Linked DNA regions of Homo sapiens. The protein of the gene in region 4 interacts with the protein of the main gene of each other region in a pairwise test. Each region holds a gene or a part of one and is shown on either strand. Other genes may lie near its edges.

The links. The genes of interacting proteins can lie anywhere in the genome.
Region 1: the proteins of ENTREP1 (region 4) and RNF115 interact in a two-hybrid assay, tested with the Homo sapiens proteins (one large-scale study listed by IntAct).
Region 2: the proteins of ENTREP1 (region 4) and PIK3C2A interact in a two-hybrid assay, tested with the Homo sapiens proteins (one large-scale study listed by IntAct).
Region 3: the proteins of ENTREP1 (region 4) and ARIH1 interact in a two-hybrid assay, tested with the Homo sapiens proteins (one large-scale study listed by IntAct).

Annotation. Positions count from the first base shown.
Region 1 is NC_000001.11:145,813,638-145,818,651, forward strand, and holds part of RNF115 (E3 ubiquitin-protein ligase RNF115), read right to left. Parts: intron 1-5,014. UniProt on the Homo sapiens protein: E3 ubiquitin-protein ligase that catalyzes the 'Lys-48'- and/or 'Lys-63'-linked polyubiquitination of various substrates and thereby plays a role in a number of signaling pathways including autophagy, innate immunity, cell proliferation and cell death.
Region 2 is NC_000011.10:17,197,529-17,202,542, reverse strand, and holds part of PIK3C2A (phosphatidylinositol 4-phosphate 3-kinase C2 domain-containing subunit alpha), read left to right. Parts: intron 1-5,014.
Region 3 is NC_000015.10:72,476,274-72,481,287, reverse strand, and holds part of ARIH1 (E3 ubiquitin-protein ligase ARIH1), read right to left. Parts: intron 1-5,014. UniProt on the Homo sapiens protein: E3 ubiquitin-protein ligase, which catalyzes ubiquitination of target proteins together with ubiquitin-conjugating enzyme E2 UBE2L3.
Region 4 is NC_000009.12:69,376,595-69,381,608, forward strand, and holds part of ENTREP1 (endosomal transmembrane epsin interactor 1), read left to right. Parts: intron 1-775; coding exon 776-883; intron 884-1,016; coding exon 1,017-1,150; intron 1,151-5,014. UniProt on the Homo sapiens protein: Functions as an activator of the E3 ubiquitin protein ligase ITCH in the ubiquitination of the CXCL12-activated CXCR4 receptor. Thereby, triggers CXCR4 endocytosis and desensitization, negatively regulating the CXCL12/CXCR4 signaling pathway.

The sequences.
Region 1 (5,014 bases), on a different chromosome or scaffold from region 4:
CTAACTGAGCCCTAGTTCCTGTTCTAAACACTCTCTCCCATCAGAGGTTTGCCTAAAATTATACGGTCTCAATTTTCTTACTGAAAATTCACTGGGATCCCAAAATTAAAAATCAAACCTACACCAAAACAAAACCTTAAACACAATTAGCACAAGATGACACTGACTATCCCTCTATCTATCCCAGGGTTTCTCAACCTCAGCCCTCTTACCTTTTTGGGCCCAATATAATTCTTTGTTTTGAGGGGTCTATCCTGTGCACTGCAGCATGTTCAGCAGCATCTCTGGCCTCCACCCACTGCATGACAGTAGCAACCCTCCTCCAGCCCCTAGTTCCAAAAATCAAAAATGTCTACAGGCTGGGTGTGGTGGCTCACACCTACCATCCCAATACTTTGGGAGGCCGAAGCAGGACTGCTTGAGGCCAGGAGTTTGACACCAGCCTAGGCAACACAGTGAGACTCTGTCTCTACAAAAAATTAAAAAATTAGCCGGGTGTGGTGGTACAGCTAGTTGGGAGGCTGAGGTGGGAGGATTGCTTGAGCCCAGGAGGTGGAAGCCGCAGTGAGCCGTGATCATGCCACTGCACTCCAACCTGGGCAACAAAGTCAGACTCTGTCTCCAAAAAAAAGATAAAAAATTGTCTACAGACTTTGCCAAATGTTCCCTGGGAAACAAAACTACCTGAAATTGAAAACCACTGCTCTAGGCTATCTCATTTATTGCTCAGTAGGATGTGAAGAGATCCAACCTGGCCAACATGGTGAAACCCTCGTCTCTACTAAAAATACAAAAATTAGCCAGGCGTGGTGGCAGGCACCTGTAATCCCAGCTACTTGGGAGGCTGAGGCAGGAGAATCACTTGAAACTGTAAGGCAGAGGATGCAGTGAGCCGAGATCGTGCCACTGCACTCCAGCCTGGGTGAAAGAGGGAAACTCCGTTTAAAAAAAAAAAAAAGAGGCAACTAAACATAAAGAAATACAAAGTGTTAGCACATCTAGTTGGTACTTCCCCCGAAAATACAAAAAATTTCTTCTGCAGTGAGTTCAATTTTCAGATTTTTTTCTTCCTTATACTGAAAAAGTCCCACAAATTTCCCCAATATATACATTTATATTTATCAGTAGAATTACAAGGATAAACTAGCCTCTACCTATAAGAATACATATTTATTTCTAGATATTGCAGTGAATATATGTACTTCACTGTACATTCAAATTTCACATGGTAGCACCTACATTTTGTACCACTGTAGCCTTTTAAAGGCGTCAAAACACTGAAGTCATCACTTTTTAAATATAATTACTGGGTGTTCAACTCATATCAATCATTCAATTAAAAAATATTTAATTAGCAACTGCTATATAGCACCAGATAGACATCTCTCTGGGACCTTTCTAAGAATCATGCAACTTAGAAAGGTCAGCTGAGCTTAAACGGTCACAAAGTCTTTAAGAAATCTGCTTTTTAGCTACTTTTATTATGGGTGGTTTGAACATTTTCCTGTATTAGAGTTATTGCAAGTACAATACAATGATGAATGCCTTCTCTAGCACCTGGTAGAGCCAAACTAGATAACATTACTTATTGATAAGGAAAACATTTTATTAGATCAAAGAAGATGATAAAATAAGTAGAGGGAGAGAAGCCTACTACATAGTTTCTTCAGGTGGAGCCTGAAAGCGAGCAGTTCTTAACCTGATCTCTTCATCTGGATTTAGGAAGATACCCTGATCTCCATAAAATACTTAAGAACCACCCTAGTCTCATCAATACCAAAAGTAGGTTACTCTGCATATGATTTATCTCACCTGTTTAATGATGACTCTACCAGATTTAATCACATAAGGTAACATTCCCTGACCTTGATTTAATGGGGAAAGACGGATGGTAGGGTGTAGGAATGGAATAACACCTTTACACTCCATGACACAGCCCTCTGTGGTGTACTACCCAGTCATTCATCATCAATGTAGCACACTAACTCCATTAGTCTTGGCTTCACATTGTCTCTCAATAAGATAGGTAAGGTAAGAGTTTCTGCTATGGTTTTGAAAATAATAATCTGAAGTTACTTTAAGTATTTATTCTATAATCTGATGACCAAAAAATCTACAATGGCATTTTACCCAATCCTACAGAAACTTAAAATCCTGAGGCTCCAGACTATATAATCGAAATCTCTGATTTTAAAATCCAAGTTTAGTACTCACAAAATTTTACTAAAGTTATTTTCACTGTAAATAGGAAAACACTTTTAATAAGGAGAAAGAAATTCCTAAACCAATACTCACTTGGAATGGAGACTTTTTTGAAACCTAACAGAAAACAATGCCACTAAATATGTTTTCATTTTAAAATTCCCTTCATGATTTCTCCTTATTTCTTAATATCCTCTTTCCAAATGAACCTTTTGTCCTCTTTTTGAATGGTTTTTTTTTTTTTTGAGATGGAGTCTCGCTCTTTTTGCGAGTGCAATGGCACGATCTCAGCTCACTGCAAGCTCCGCCTCCTGGGTTTTCAAGCGATTCTCCTGCCTCAGCCTCCCGAGCCCAGCTCAAATCACTAAATTGCTTAGATTAGAGGCGCCCACCACCACGCCAGGCTAATTTTTGTATTTTTAGTAGAGACAGGGGTTTCACCATGTTGGCCAGGCTGGTTTTGAAGTCCTGACCTCAGGTGATCCGCCCACCTTGGCCTCCCAAAGTGCTAGGATTACAGGCACTAGTCACCATGCCCGGCCCTCTTTTGTCCTCTTATCTGAGTGGATCCAACCCAAAGACACACAAAGCTAAAATTGATCAGGATTAGCAGTAAGGAGTGTTATTCTGTCAAATTAAATGAATTCAGCCTACATGTGGCTTTAAAAAAAAAGGTGAAATAATAAAGTAATTAAATTTTAAAAAGAAGAGAAGAGTTATTAAACCTTGCAACCTAGTCCCGTTGAACACAATTATGGCTCTGAAGCAGACCTTCCCATTGAATGGGTGAAGAAACCTAGTGAGAGCTCATTAAAAGCTGATGTAAACTCAATACCCAGCCTCTGGTGTTCAGTGAGGACAGCACTCATAGATGATGGGTTCTTTCTTTCTTTTTCTTTTTCTTTTCTTTTCTTTTTTCTCTCCTCTCTCCCCTCTCTCTTCTCTCTCATCCAGACTGGGTCTCTGTTGCCCAGGCTGGAGTACAGTGGCACAACCATAGCTCACTGTAACCTCAAATATCCTGGGCTCAAGTAATTCTTCCACCTCAGCCTCCCAAGTAGCTAGGACTACAAGCACATGCCACCATACCCAGCTAATTTTTATTTTTTTTGTTGAGACAGGGTCTTGCTATGTTATCCAGGCTGGGAGAACATTTTAAACAAAGGGAGACAGAGGTCTAAAAATAGATAATGCATAGGAGAATGGTGAGGTAAATGCTATGGCCAAGGCACAGGGCGTGTGGAGGAATGAGTTGGGTTTTTGAAGTTGATTAGATTAAATCATGGAGTCTTTTTCTTTTTTGAGATAAGCTCTTGCTCTGTCACCCAGACTGGAGTGTAATGGCACAATCACAGCTCACTGCAGCCTCGACCTCCCGGGCTTGAGCAATCTTCCCCGACTCAGCCTCCTGAGTAGCTAGGACCACAGACACACACCACCACCCCTGGCTAATTTTTTTAATTTTTGTAGAGATAGGGTCTCACTTTGTTGCCCAGGCTAGTGCCAAACTCCTGGGCTCAAGCAATCCTCTCCTGCCTTGGGTTCCCAAAGTGTTGGTATAACAGGTGTGAGCCACAGCATGCCCCAGTGAGGGATGGTTCTTGGTATCCAACTATCACAAGAGTCAGTACCCTCTTTGTTTACTTTGTTTTTATAAAATTTATCCATATCTGATTTTAACTGGGGTATTAAGCCTTTTTATATATTGACTATAAATGGTTTTTAGGTTTTAGGTCCTTCATTTTGCTCTTTGTTTTCTACACATATTTTTTTTGATTTTAGGTTTGGGGGCACATATGTACATTTGTTACACGGACAAACTGTGTCACTGGAATTTGGTGTACTGATTATTTCGTCACCCAGCAACTGACCATAGTACAAGATAGGCAGTTTTTTGACCCTCATCCTCCTCTTACCCTCACCACCTCAAGTAAGCCCTCGTGTCCATGTTTATGCCCATGTGTACTCAATGTTTAGCTCCCACTTTTAAGTGAGAACACGTGGTACTTGGCTTTCTGTTCCTGCTTTAATTCACTTAGGATAATGACCTCCAGCTGCATCCATGTTGCTGCAAAGGACATGATTTCGGTTTTGTTTTTTTTAAATAGCTGTATAGTATCCCATGATGTATATGTACCATATTTTCTTTATTAAGTCCACCACTGATGGGCATCTAGGTTGATTCCATGTCTTTGCTCTTGTGAACAGTGCCACAATAAACATACAAGTGCATGTGTCTTTTTGGTAAAACGATTTATATTCCTCTGGGTATATACCCAGTAATGGATTGCTGGGCAGAATGGTAGTTCCGTTTTAAGTTCTTTGGGAAATCAAACTGCCTTCCACAGTGGCTGAACTAATTTACATTCTCACCGGCAGTGTATAGGCATTCCCTTTTCTCCACAACCTTGCCAACAACTGTTATTCTTTAACTTTCTAATAATAGCTATTCTGACTGGTGTGAGATGGTATCTCGCTGTGGTTTTGGTTTGCATTTCTCTGACGATTAGTAATCCTGAGCATTTTTTCATATGCTTATTGGGCTGCATATATGTCTTCTTTTGAGAAGTGCGTAGGCAAAAAAACCAAAATCATACCAACCACACTCTCGGATTATAGTGCAATTAAAATAGAAATCAATACTAAAAAGGTCTCTCAAAACTATACAATTACATGGAAATGAGACAACTTGTTCCTGAATGACTTTTCAGTAAAAAATGAAATTAAGGGAGAAATCAGAAAGTTCTTTGAAACTAATGAAAACAAAGATACAGCATACCAGAATCACTAGGATACAGTTAAAGCAGTATTA
Region 2 (5,014 bases), on a different chromosome or scaffold from region 4:
GAGTGCAGTGGCTCCATCTCAGCCTACTGCAACCTCTGCCTCCCACACTTGGGTGATTCTCCCACCTTAGCCACCCAAGTAGCTGGGACTACAAGCACGTGCCATCACGCCTGGCTAATTTTTGTGTTTTTTGTAGAGGAGGGGTTTTGCCACATTGTCCAGGCTGGTCTTGAACCCCTGGGCCCACCTTGGCCTCCTAAAGCGCTGAGATTACAGGCATAAGCCACCACGTCCACCCCAGTATTCTTTTCTTTTCTTCCTTCTTTCTTTTTTTTTTTTTTTTCTGGAGATGAAGTCTCACTCTTGTCGCCCAGGCTGGAGTACAATGGCGCAATCTCAGCTCACTGCAACCTCCGCCTCCTGGGTTCAAGTGATTCTCTTGCCTCAGCCTCCCGAGTAGCTGGGATTACAGGTGCATGCCACCATGCCCGGATAATTTTTGTATTTTTGGTAGAGATGGGGTTTCACCATTTTGGCCAGGCTGGTCTTGAACTCCTGACCTAAGGCGATCTGCCCGCCTCTGCCTCCCAAAGTGCTGGGATTACAGGTGTGGGCCACCGCCCCGGGCCCCAGTATTCTTTTCATTGAATCTCTTCATATGGCATTTGAGTGTTTAGATACATAGTACAAACCAGATTTTTGGAGTGTATAAAGAAATAGTTACTTCCTGCCTTTGGGAAGTTTATATTCCAACTAGGAGAGACCAACTAACTACAATCCATGTAGCAAAAAGTACTTCAGTTATTTAAAAAAATTTGTTACGGGAAAGAAAAGATGTAAGGGATAATATAGTCAAATGGAAAATAGATAAGAGTTAATTAGACAAGATTTTTGAGTAAAGAGTTTAGATTGTAAATCCTTACTATAGGAAGAAGAAGATGATGAGGTGTTAAGGATAGTGTTATTTCAATGCACAGAGAACAACTTAAGGGAAAACTTAGCTAAGGGAACATAAAACGTAGGTTTAGGGAAAGCTTTTCTTTTTTTTTTTCTTTTTTCTTTTTTTTTTTTTTTTTTGAGACGGAGTCACGTTCTTTCACCAGGCTGTAGTGCAGTGGTGCGATCTTGGCTCACTGCAACCTCTGCCTCCCAGGCTCAAGTGATTCTCCTGCCTCAGCTTCTCAAGTAGCTGGGATTACAGGCACACGTCACCACGCCCGGCTAATTTTTGTATTTTTAGTAGAGATGGGGTTTCACCATGTTGGCCAGGATGGTCTCAATCTTTTGACCTCATGATCTGCCTGCCTCGGCCTCCTGAAGTGCTGGGATGACAGGCATGAGCCACCACACCAGGCCTAGGGAGGGGTTTTCAAGGCTTATTTTTTATTTTTATTTTTTAGATAGAATATCGCTCTGTAACCCAGGCTGGAGTGCAGTGGCACGATCTTGGCTCACTGCAACCTCCGCCTCACAGGTTCAAGCGATTTTCCTGTCTCAGCTTCCTGAGTAGCTGGGATTACAGGCGTCTGCCACCACATCTGGCTAATTTTTGGGTTTTTAGTAGAGACGGGATTTCACCATGTTGGCCAGGCTGGTCTTGAACTCCTGACCTGAAGTGATCCGCCCACATCTGCCTCCTAAAGTGCTGGGATTACAGGCATGAGCCACCGTGCCCGGCTTGAATCGCCTAGTTTCATCTGACTAGATCTCATAATGACATTTATCAGGCTAGAATTCTGTGTGTATTGAAATGTATGACATGATACTACCATTGTTAAGGATTCTTTTTGAAAAGTCATACTTATTAAGGTATAATTTACACTTAGTAAAATTCATCTGTTTTAGGTGTAAAGTTCTGTATAGTTCTGCTAAAACAGATGAATTACAAAAAACAGTGACAGTTGTGTAACTGCCACCACCACAATTAAGATACAAGATATAGAATATTTCCATCACTCCAAAAATTTCCATAATTATGCCCTTTTGAAGTAAATCCCTTCAGCCCACCCCTCACTCCCTGGCAACAGCTCATTTGTTTTTTATCCCTATAGTTTGGCCTTTCCCAAAATGCCATATAAATTGGCATCACACAGTGTATATAGCCTTTTGAGACTGGCTTCTTTCATTTAGCATAACACTTTTGAGATTCAATAACATGTCTCTTTTTTATTAATAAACTTTTTTAGAAAGTTTATAGAAAAATCATGAAGTTACCAATTTACAGAAAATTTGTAATTGTAGTACAGAGAAATCCCTTAAACCCTGCACCTAGTTTCCCCTATGTTTAAATTTATGTAAACTACTAATTTTTGCTAATGGTCAAACCTGCAAGGTTCTAGAATTAAGTTTGTTGAAAATGGGAAACAATATGAAGATTTCGATCAAGACGATGACTTTCTAATGCCTTTTTTTTTTTTGAAATGCAGTCTCGCTCTGTCGCCCAGGCTGGAGTGCAGTGGCGCGATCTCAGCTCACTGCAACTTCCTCCTCCTGGGTTCAAGCGATTCTCGTGCCTCATCCTCCTGAGTAGCTGGGATTACAGGCACGCACCACTATGCCCAGCTAATTTTTGTATTTTTGTATTTTTTGTATTTTTTACCATCCCAAACAAACTCTGTAGCTGTTAAGCAGTGACTGTTCATTCTCTTCTCAACCCAGCCCCTGGTAACCACTAATCTACTTTTTTTTTTTTTTTTTTTGAGATGGAGGCTGGAATGTAGTGGCACGATCTCAGCTCACTGCAACCTCTGCCTCCCAGGTTCAAGCAATTCTGCCTCAGCCTCCCGAGTAGCTGGGACTACAGGCATGTACCACCACGCCCAGCTAATTTTTGTATTTTTAATAGAGACAGGGTTTCACCATGTTGGCCAGGATGGTCTTGATCCACCTGCCTTGGCCTCCCAAAGTGTTGGGATTACAGGCGTGAGCCCCTGTGCCCAGCCTCTACTTTTTGTCTCTGTGAATTTACCTATTCTAGATCTTTCGTGTGATTGGAATCGTGTAATATTTAGCCTTTTGTGTCTGACTTATGTCACTTAGCGTAATGTTTTCAAGGTTCATACATGTTGTAGAATGTATCATTTTTATGGCTGAATCATATTTAATGTACCACATTTTGTATATTAATTCATTGATGGATACTGCATTTGTTTTCACCTTTTGGCTATTATAAACAATGCTGCTATGAGTATTAGTGTACTCCTATTTTCAGTTCTTTTGGGTATATATCTAGGAGTGGAATTGCTGGGTTGTTGTAATTCCATATTTAATTTTTTGAAGAAACACTAAAGTGTTTTCCAAAGTGGCTGTACCATTTTACATTCCCTTAGCAGCAAAGTATCAGGGTTCCACTTTTTCTACACCCTTGCCACCACTTGTTGTTTTCCTTTTTTCCAGTTATAGCCATTCTAGTAGGTTGACTAGTGATATTGAGTATCTTTTCATGTCCTTATTGATAATAAGTTGGCTTTTTTTTTTTTTTCTTGAGACGGTGTCTCACTCTGTTGCCCAGGCTGGAGTGCAATGGCATGATCTCAGCTCACTGCAACCTCTGCCTCCCAGGTTCAAGTGATTCTCTTGTCTCATCCTCCCAAGTAGCTGGGATTACAGGTGCCTGTCAGCACGCGTGGCTAATTTTTGTATTTTTGGTAGAGACAGTGTTTCACCACGTTGGCCAGGCTGGTCTCGAATTGCTGACCTCAAGTGATCCACCCACCTCGGCCTCCCAAAGTGCTGGGATTATAGATGTAAGCCACTGCGCCCAGACTAAGGTGGCTTTTTTTTTTTGTTTTGTTTTGTTTTTTATGAGGTCTTGCTGTGTTGTCCAGGCTGGGATACAATGGCTATTCGCAGAGACAATCGTAATGCAGTATAGCCTTGACCTGATAGGCTCAAAGGATCCTTCTGCCTCAGCCTCCAGAGTAGGTGGGAGTACAGATGCATGCCACTGTGCACAGTTAATGGTAGCAACATACTGATGCTTGTTTCAACAATGGTCAAGGCAGGGTGATGTTAACATTTTTTAAAAGGAAAAATAATTGGATGGAAACGTATTTTAAAATCGCTATTATATGCTAAGCATTTTATTATATAATTTTATTTAACTCTGAAAACACAGTATTATCTGTGTTTTACAGATGAGAAAACTAAAGACAAAGGGAGATCAAGTAACTTACTTTAAAAATCACACAGTTGGCCTGGCAGTGTGGCTGATGCCTGTAATCCCAGCACTTTGGGAGGCTGAGGTGGGTGGATCACCTGAGGTCAGGAGTTCGAGACCAGCCTGGCCAACATGGTGAAACCCTGTCTCTACTAAAAATACAAAAATCAGCCGGGTGTGGTGGCGGGCACCTGTAATCCTGGCTACTTGGGAGGCTGAGTTAGGAGAATCGGCTTGAACCTGGGAGGTGGAGGTTGCAATGAGCGGAGACTGTGCCACTGTACTCCAGCCTGGGAGACAGAGCAAGACTCCATCTCAAAAAAAAAAAAAATCACACAGTTTATAAGAGGGAAGTCTGATATTTGCTTGCTGCTACATGGTTCTTTCTCCTGCTATCACTGTTATATAAAACTATGAATTTAATCCACATGTTGATGTCATGTGAAAGTAAGACTTTTTTAGTCATAGAAATTGATGGAGTTTGGGGGAAAATTCCAGAAGTAGTCATGTCAGTTTTTCGTTATTTTTTATTATTCACTATTCAGGGTTTCTCAGTTGCAACTCAGTTTTATCTTTTTTCTACCTTAAGCCATGTTAAATGCAGGTATATACCATAACATTTAACACAGAAGCTTTACTGTTATCTGTCATGTTGGAATTGGGGTGATGTCAAAGTTTATTTAATGATTCATGTCAAGTGAATGAACAATGAAGTAGATCAAAGTTCAGTAATTATCTCCACAAAGCAGTACTACTGTTGGGATTCTGAGTTAGATTGAAAACTTCTTGGTCAGCAAAATGTCTTTCAATAGGGATCTCTTGCTGTGACTATATCCCCTTTCCTTGTCCCCCTCCCACATACATACAGTGATACACATATGCAGACATAGAAAATTATCATGGTTAGATACCCTG
Region 3 (5,014 bases), on a different chromosome or scaffold from region 4:
ACCATCACCTAGAAGGCTTGTTAAAACAGACAGCCAGACCCCATCCCCAGAGTTTGATTCATAGGACTACTGCCATAGCAATTCAACAAGTCAGTGTAATTTAAACTTACAGCTCAAGGAGATCAGCTGGGAAAATATAAAAGTCCAAAAGAAATAAATCTAAACTATATCAAACACTTTAATAACTTCAAAACACATGTGCCTGCACACATCATGCACAGGCTTGTACACCCTCTTCCTCCTCTCCCAATTAATGAACATAACCACAATATGCACACCTGAATTCAATTTCTTGGAAAAAATGAACATCTCCAATTAACTGAGGTTTTTAAAATGATGTTAAACGAATAAAACACTTAATGTAAAAAAGGACCAACCTAGTATTTCAACTCCCTCATTTTCAGTCCCAGATTAAAAACAAAACAAGGCCGGGCAAGGTGGCTCACTGTGATCCCAGAACTTTGGGAGGCCGAGGCGGGCAGATCACCTGAGGTCGGGAGTTTGAGACCAGCCTGACCAACATGGAGAAACCCCCATCTCTACTAAAAATACAAAATTAGCCAGGCGTGGTGGCATACGCCTGTAATCCTAGCTACTCAGGAGGCTGAGGCAGGAGAATCGCTTGAACCTGGGAGGCAGAGGTTGCAGTGAGCTGAGATCGCGTCATTGCACTCCAGCCTGGGCAACAAGAGAGAAACTCCATCTCAACAACAACAACAAAAAGTGTGGCTGGGCACCGTGGCTCATGCCTATAATCCCAACACTCTGGGAGGCCAAGGTAGGTCGATCATTTGAGGTCAGGAGTTCGAGACCAGCCTGGCCAACATGGTGAAACCTCATCTCTAATAAAATACAAAAAATAGCTGGGTGTGGTGGCGCGTGCCTGTAATCCCAGTTACTTGAGAGGCTGAAGCAGGAGAATCGCTTGAACCCTGGAAGTGGAGGTTGCAGTGAGCCAAGATCAGGCCACTGCACTCCAGCCTGGGTGACACAGTGAGACATGTATAAAAAAAAAAAAAAAAAATTTGAAGGTTCTGAGATATTAACTAGACAGAGTAAAAACCAGGGCTATAACTGACTCCCCAATCAGTAAACAATATGCTAGAATAGTACACTGTTGACCGGGCACGGTGGCTCATGCCTGTAATCCCAGCACTTTGGCAGGCCGAGGTGGGCGGATCACGAGGTCAGGAGATCCAGATCATCCTGGCTAACATGGTGAAACCCCATCTCTACTAAAAAATACAAAAAAATTAGCCAGGCATGGTAGCGGCTGCCTGTAGTCCCAGCTACTCGGGAGGCTGAGGCAGAAGAATGGCGTGAACCCAGGAGGCGGAGCTTGCGGTGAGCCGAGATCGCACCACCGCACTCCAGCCTGGGCAACAAAGCGAGACTCCGTCTCAAACGAAAAAAAAAAAAAGAATAGTACACTGTCTTCCTTAGTTTAGGCTTGCAACCTCAACTTGAGGTTCTTTAATTAAATCTCTTAATTAAATAAGTGAAATACAGCTTTCGAACCAACAGCCAACAGAAAATTTCTTCAGTAAGGCTTAGATATTTTTTTCTTTAAAATGAGTTATTTGGCTGGGCACGGTGGCTCACGCCTGTAATCCCAGCACTTTGGGAGGCCAAGGCAGGCGGATCACGAGGTCAAGAGGTTGAGACCATCTGACCAACATGGTGAAACCCAGTCTCTACTAAAAATACAAAAATTAGTTGGGTGTGGTGGCGCGCACCTGTAGTCCCAGCTTCTCAGGAGGCTGAGGCAGGAGAATCGCTTGAACCCAGGAGGCAGAGGTTGCACTGAGCCAAGATCACGCCACCACTGCTCTCCAGCCTGGCAACAGAGCAAGACTCCGTCTCCAAAAAAAAAAAAAGTTATTTAGCATAACAGATCTTATAAAAGCAAGATACCTATCCACTGTTTTTTATACCTCCTCTGACCACTCACATTCAATAGTCCCAGGTCCATATTCCTCTCGGCACACACTCTAAATATGGTACAGGTTGAGTATTCCTTATCCAAAATACTTGAGACCAGAAGTTTTTCAGATTTGGAATATTTAATTATACTTACAATCAACATCCCTAATCTGAAAATCCGAAATCCAAAATGCTGCAGTGAGCATTTCCTTTGAGCATCACAACGGTGCTCAAAAAGTTTTGGATTTCCAGGCCTACCATTTTGAGAGGCTGAGGTTCAAGGAGCGCTTGAGGCCAGGAGTTTGAGACTGGCCTGGGCAACAGAGCAAGACCCTGTGTCTCTACAAAAAAGAAAAAAAATTAGCTAGGAGTGGTGCCACACACCTATAGTCCTAGCTACTCAGGAGGCTGAGGCGGGAGAATCACTTTAGCTCAGGAAGTTGAGGTTGCAGTGAGCTATGATCTTGCCATTGCACTTCAGTCTGGGCAACAACACAAAGTGATTTCAGAGCATTTCTGATTTTTTGATTAGGTATACCCAATCTGTGCCCCTAAGAGCTGCTGCTCTTCTCACTCTACTCACCCTGCCTGAGTCAAAATCGTGACAGTGGATTAACTATCACTATTCCAGTGGTTTGGTTATCACTAGAAGGCTAAAATACAGAGATGCTAAGGTTTCACCTCAGACTTCATTAATGAGTAAGAATCTCTGGAAGTGGAGTTCAAGGACCTCCATATTCCCTATCCCTATATGCTCCTTAGGCAAGGAGCATATCCTCTGCTTAACATAATGCCTGGCATACTTAGAAAGCACAATCAACATTTGCTGAACACTGTTGTGGAAAAACAAAATGGCAAGTTTAAATACTCCCAACTGCAGAATTGAACAGGGTTCTTTTAATAAATTACCTAGCTACTTATATAGTTACATTAGAAAACTACTTTTTAGGCTGGGCGCGGTGGCTCAAGACTGTAATCCCAGCACTTTGGGAGGCCCAGCTGTGTGGATCACCTGGGTTCAGGAGTTCAAGACCAGCCTGGCCAACATGGTGAAACCCCCTCTCTACTAAAAAATACAAAAAGTAGCTGGGTGTGGTGGTGCACACCTGTAATCCCAGCTACTCGGGAGGCTCAGGCAGGAGAATTGCTTGAACCCAAGAGGCGGAGGTTGCAGTGAGCTGAGATCACGCCACTGCACTCCAACCTGGGCAGCAGAATGAAACTCTGTCTCAAAATAAACAAATAACAAAAAACACCCTGGCCAGGCATGGTGGCTCACACCTGTAATCCCAGCACTTTGGGAGGCCGAGAAGGGCAGATCACTTGAGGCCAGGAGTTCAGTACCAGCATGATGAACATGGGGAAACCCTGTAACACAAGAATTAGCTGGGCCTGGTGGCAGGTGCCTGTAATCCCAGATACTGGGGTAGGGGGGGAAGCTGAGGCAAGGGGAATCTCTTGAACCTGGGAGGGAGAGGTTGCAGTAAGCTGAGATCACGCGACTGCACTACAGCCTGGGTGACAGAGTGAGGCTGTCTCCAAACAAAACAAAATAAAAAACTCTGATTTTTTTTTTCCTTAAAAGCTGAAAAGGTAAGCTAGGTAGCCACAAAGCATTTAAACAAAAGACCAAATTAAATAAAGTTTAATTGTTTAATTTGGTCTTTTATTTAAATGTTAATTGGGAAATTATAGAAAGCCAGAAAACCAAGTTTTCTGAAAGAAAATAATGTTGACTTATTTGAAGACCAAACCTAACCTGCAAATATCCACAAATAACAGTATTTATGTTGTTGCCCAGAACTCCTCTCCCAGAAAAAGTAATCAAATTCCCAAGGAAATATTAAATTAATTTGGTTATCTTTTTACATTTCAAACTTTTTCACCTGCAAATGTATCTTACCTGATTTCACACTGAAAATTAGAACTGAGAACAGGGAATTTAAATGTTTAAGAGTTAACAGTAAGCTCTCTAATGCAAACTAAGTAAAATTCAGTGTTTATCAAACCAACATTAAAAACCTAGATAACTGCTATTTCCAACCTCTATTAATAGAAAGAAGTCTTACAAACCAGTAAGAGATAAATATCCCAAAGAGGGGCAATGGGCAAAAGAGAATAAAATGAGCAAAAAGCGAGGGGCAATTTAAAAAAGAAATACCAAGCCCAATAAACATAAATTCAATCTCACCAGGTTTTTTTTGCCCATCAAACACTGGTTGGGAAAACTAGCATAACTTTTCTGAAAGCAATGTGGTAGTATGTATCAAATGCATTGAAAATGAGCAAATTCTTTTGACTCAGCAATTCACTTTATCCCAAGAAAATAAGAACACTCAAAGACTGACCTATGAGGATATTTTCAATATTTATAAAAGCCAGAAACTAGAAAATAAAAAGGAAGGCAAATAACAGATTGATTAAATAAATTAGTTCAGATCTATAATCATATAAGTTCTCGAAAAATTTACTTGACAGAAGGTTGTTCAGAGTATTTCTGTAATGTTTTTCCACTGAAAACACAAACAGAACATACAGTATGGTTCCACTGTTATTAACGTGGAACCATATTAATGGCTATCCAAAGGTCTAGAAAAATAACTACAGTTCGCATTTTGTTGTACGTCTCTGGGTGGCAGGCTTGTTTTGTCTTTTTATTTTTTCTTACCTAATCAGATTTTTCTTACATGTGCATCTTCTACAGGCCGGGCACGGTGGCTGACGCCTGTAATCCAGCGCTTTGGGAGGCCGAGGCAGGCGGATCACAAGGTCAGGAGTTCGAAACCAGCCTGGCCAGCATGGTGAAACCCGTCTCTACTAAAAATACAAAAAATTAGCTGAGCATGGTGGAGCGCGCCTGTAGTACCAGCTACTTGGGAGGCCGAGGCAGGAGAATTGCATGAACCCGGCAGGCGGAGGTTGCAGTGAGCAGAGATTGCGCCATTGCACTCCAGCCTGGGCGACAAAGCAAGACTCCGTCTCAAACAAACAAAAAATTATCTTCTACAATCCTCAACTTCCTTCTTAGACTGTGTTCTCTAGATTAAAAATGAAGACTTCCACTATTTAGTAATGGCACTAGATATCAGAG
Region 4 (5,014 bases):
TTGGGTTTCATTTTGGTGGGGAGGAAGAATCTCCAAGGAAAGAGAGAACTGTTCCAAGCTACCAGCTCTGGGTTGTGTGGGATGTGGAAATGGCCTGCTTTCCATGGCTTCTGCATTTTTGGTAGCTGAGTCACCCCCAAACTTTCTGAGCCAGGACTTAGCTTGGGGAAAGCCCCACTCAAGGAGCCAGGACTGTACCAACAGAAGCGTTTGGAATGGCCTTTGCTATTTTGAGATGTGTGTTTAGTGGAGAGAAGTCCTATTTACACTCTGGCTGGGCCAGCTCCTTCAGTGTCCTCGTCGTGTGCATGGGGCAGCACAGCCAATTGCTCTTGAAATAGAATTAGTGGCCACAAATTAAGCAGTGTGCTGTGCTGGTGGGAGGCTGTGGGAGGGAGGAGGCTGGGAATTGCTATCCCTGGGGAAATCAGCCTCAGAAGAGAAGCTCACTGCTCTCCTGGAAGGAATGTTTCTCGACAGTATTCTGATGCTTGCAAAAAGAAATACTATCATACCACGTTGTTCTGTGACAGAAAGCTTCTAAGATAAGTTTTTGGAATTAAGAAGTACACATTATTGCATGAGGGTCATAATAATAGCCAGCATTTATTTGGGCACTTTCCACGAGCCAAACACCATCTAAGTCCTTTACATGCATCCTCTCCTGAGAATTGTCTTATGGAGGCAGCGTTATTATTATTTTAAAGATTTTCTACATTGTATTCTGGTGATGTTTGTTGAAGTACTTAGTGGTGCCATTGTTTCCTTGCCCCAGAAAGTCCTCTTTGCCCTGTGTGCCTTGAATGCCCTGACCACCACCGTCTGCTTGGTGGCCGCTGCCCTCCGCTACCTCCAGATATTCGCAACCAGGAGATCCTGCATCGTAAGTCTATGCAAGGGCATCATGGCCACGTTTCCGCTGAGCCAGCCCATGGACCCCTTCGTGTCATCCACTGCCTCTCTCCCCGTGCCTTTGTAATGAAGGCTGTTGACTAACTGAGCTGCTGTTTAATCAGGATGAATCCCAGATTTCTGCTGAAGAAGCGGAGGATCATGGACGCATCCCCGACCCTGATGATTTTGTGCCGCCTGTGCCTCCCCCTTCCTATTTTGCCACGTTTTACTCGTGCACACCCCGGATGAACCGCAGGTATCGTTCCTGAGTTCCCCTGCAGTCTGAGTGGGATGCTGTGGGTTCTGAAGACTGAAGTGTCTCCAGAACTCACCACATGAGATCTCACTTTTCTTTGAAAAAGAAAAAGAAAAATTTTTCCTGACTTGAGGAACGTTAGCCCAATGAGTGACAAAATCAGCTAGTGAACCCTGTGGTATGGCTTTTAGAGAGTCCACCTCTGCCAGCCTTCTTTAGAAAAATGAAAAACAATTATGCTGTTTTTCAGGGGTTTCTATTCTCTCTGTCTCTCTCTCTCTGTTTTCTGTCTTACTTTCTCTTTTTGTCTGATAAAACAGATGAATCCAAAGAAAAGTTAAACTTTGGCCTGAAGATAGACATTTTCAATTTCAATTAGCTTTCTAAGGGAAACTGACACCCAGGGAGATAACAGCTGTAATTTGACATGATTGAGAGTCGCTGTTGCCTTGGAAACACTCCCAGTTAGGCCAAATCGATGTTTCATTGTAATACCATCAGCAGGTCTCAACAATCAAGAAATTCTTCCTAGCCATTAAAAAGAGATTAATTATTAATTGTCTCTCCCTGGTCTAGAAAAAATAGATACCATACTTATTTTCCTTTTCAAATTTCAAACTTAAAATTTTGACCTTCTTAAATATCAAGGATTTTTATTGGTACAGTGAAATGCCGCATACATCTGTCTGATTGTTAGCAACTTCTAGAATCAAACCTTTTTTTAAAGAATGACTTCATTTAGGCGCGGCGTGGTGGCTCACACCTGTAATCCCAGCACTTTGGGAGGCTGAGGCGGGCAGATCATGAGGTCAGGAGATCAAGACCATCCTGGCTAACCCCCGTCTCTACTAAAAATACAAAAAAATTAGCCGGGCATGGTAGTGGGCACCTGTAGTCCCAGCTACTTGGGAGGCTGAGGCAGGAGAATGGCATGAACCTGGGAGGTGGAGCTTGCAGTGAGCTGAGATCGCACCACTGCACTCCAGCCTGGGTGAGAGCGAGACTTTGTCTCAAAAAAAAAAAAAAGAATGACTTCATTCGTTTATTCATTCAACAAACGTGGAATCCTCTGTGCTGGGTTATTGGAATTCAAAATGAGCTAGACCTGCTTCCTCCTCTACCATTAAGGAGCTCACAGTCTAGGTCATTAAAATGTGTGTTGGAAGGATCACGGTAATATTCAAAAGAGGGACTTTGGGTGCACAGAGAAGGTACACCTAACCCAGAGTGGCAAGGCAGTCAGAGATGGCTTCCTGGATGAAGTGAACTTAAGCTGAGTTTAAAGGATAAGCAAACATCTGTTGAACTTTTTGAAAGAGAATCTCTTAATTCCACAGAAATACTAGTGTCTTTAGCTTCATATTCAGAGGGCCAGAAATTTCTATTTTTTAATCCCTGTAGTACATGTAGAGACTTATCAAACTAACTTGGTGCTGAGCTTGAGGTTTTTAGAGAAGTATTTTCTAATGTCCAGGGTGATGGTATGTGACTTTGAGATAGGTCACCAGTGGGGCTGCCACCCAGACACTGTTAGTGTTCTTTTCAGTGGCTTAGCTGCTGACTCGTCCCTCAGTTATACCTGAACCCTACGTCTATACCCTCCCCAGCTCACTTGCCCAGGCAGGGGCAGAGATGACTGCAAAGCTGGAGGGGATGTCAGCTGGGTGACAGGTGGCCTGGGCTAGGCCTGTGGGACAGCTTGGCCTCTCTGGTGTTCAGGGAGTGGCCTCTACTGGAATTTCAAAGCCTCAGGGGCTGGGATGGCTTCCTTAATCTTTCAGGAAATGAGCCAAGAATGACAGAGGCTGAAGAGATATGGCAGCAAAACACATGTTCTTTCTGTACCTGAGGACACATTTGCAAAAATCTTAGCGCCGTCTCAGGCTGTCTGTAGAGGGTACATTGGAGGACAGTAAAAAATGACTGATATTTCATGGTGGGGATGAGAAATACCCTCTCCAATAAGAAGAATTCTTTGACACTGAGGTTGCGGATGAGCACTCTGTTGACCTAGGAGGAGGCAGCAGACAGATTTAGTTTCTGCAGTGGCAGAAAGGGAAAGTGACTCATGTGGGTTTAGGAGCCGAGCCATCCAGCAGTGTGCTCTGAGCACTCCCGACCTTCCTGTCTCCTCGCTTTCCTTTCTCTTCTCTGCTTCACCATAATAATGCTCATCACTGCAGATATTTCCACTCTTTAAGATCTAGGTGCATCCTCGGATTTGTCTCTCTGAGTCCTGAGACAGCCTCTGGCCAAATCCAGGTTGGAAGAAAACAGACAAGCTTCTCATCAAGGGCTTTATCCTTCAAAACTTTCTAGAAAGAAGGCCGAAGGAGGGAGTTAAAGCAAAACAGTCTTGTGAGAAAGAAGACATTGCCCAGTCTAAAATACGTGCCTAGAGCCCTATAATCATATTGCCAATGGGCAAACACCTTTATTTTTGGAAATTTTACCAATATCAGAGTGCAGTCCACTTTCCTTTTCAAAAGGGCTGAATTTATTCACATTTAGATACATGTCCTATCAAAAATATTTCACAATGTGACCAACTTTTCTAGATTCACGGTATAAATCAACTTTATAGACACTCATGGTTTAACCTCAGTTGGTAATTTTCTTTCTTTTAAGCAGGCAGGCAAGAATATTCATGATTGTTACTATTTTATGACCAGTTTTATCCAGAGTTTTCACACAACAGAGGCTCCCCATTTCCTGTAAGGTATTATGACCTCTCAGAAGAGGTTTGTTTAACTTCTATAAATACAACCACTTCATGCGTTGGCATCTCCTTGAGAAAAGGCTTCTCGAGTTACTGTCATAAACAGAAGTCTGATTGCAGTTGAGGTTTCTGTCCAAAGATGGGTTCGCTACTTTGTGAATTGATTTGTAATACAGGAGGGGGCCGTGCACCCCACCCCACCTCCGCTACTCCAGGGTGTCTCTGTTCTCAGAAGTTGGCTTGAGCCAGGGATCAAGGAGTCTCCAACCTATTTCTTGAACATGGATCTGGTTTTTACTCTGGGGATGTAGCCTATTAAAGAAAACCGAAGACTGAGGGGGTCTTGGGCATTGACGTGGTTGACATGGGCATTTCTTAAAGCAGAGCCCCCCCAAACCCCACTCATTTCCTTTCCTAAGAATTTCCAAACCCAAACTCAAGTGGAGCCGGGCGATGCTTGGGGTTGAGTCAGTGCTCAGCTGTAGAGGGTTGGGGGAGGGCCCTTCCCTCTCTCCCCCTCTGCAGGCAGCAACCCTGTACCCAGTCACAGGGTACAGTTTTCCAGTACAGGAGGAGGAGGATTCTCTGGTCAATGGTGTATCTGCTGCTGCATTCCACCTGAGTGAGTCTTCAGGGCCTATTTGTAGCCTGAAAGCAGAACATGCTTTGAATTTCCATCTTCAGTGCTCCTGAGCCTGCACCAGTGAAGTCTTCCTGGGGACTTGGTGATGGACTTGAAAGAGCCAGGCTCTAGAGTCTCTGCAGAGGGTGACCCAGGATGAGTCTCTCACCATTTCTGAGCCTCAGTTTCCTCATTCACCTTCGTTGTCATGTGGCTGCAGGGAGTATTGTTATGAGATAATGGACATAAGAAGCTTTCTGAAAAGAAGCAAGACCCTCATTCTTTAATAAAAATTTGATCAACTTTCCCAGTAGAACAGGGCTTTAATTTCAATCACCATTATCCATTTCCTTTTGCAGTGGTGCTCAATCTTGGTGGTGCATTAGAATCCCCTAGGAGCACTGACAACGGGCAGATTCCTGGGTCCCACGATAGGCAATGAGAGCAGAATTTCTAAAAGTGAGGCCTGGGCCATCCAGAGTTTCAGAACCTCCCAAGGTGATTCTACCTACCTTGCCAGGAC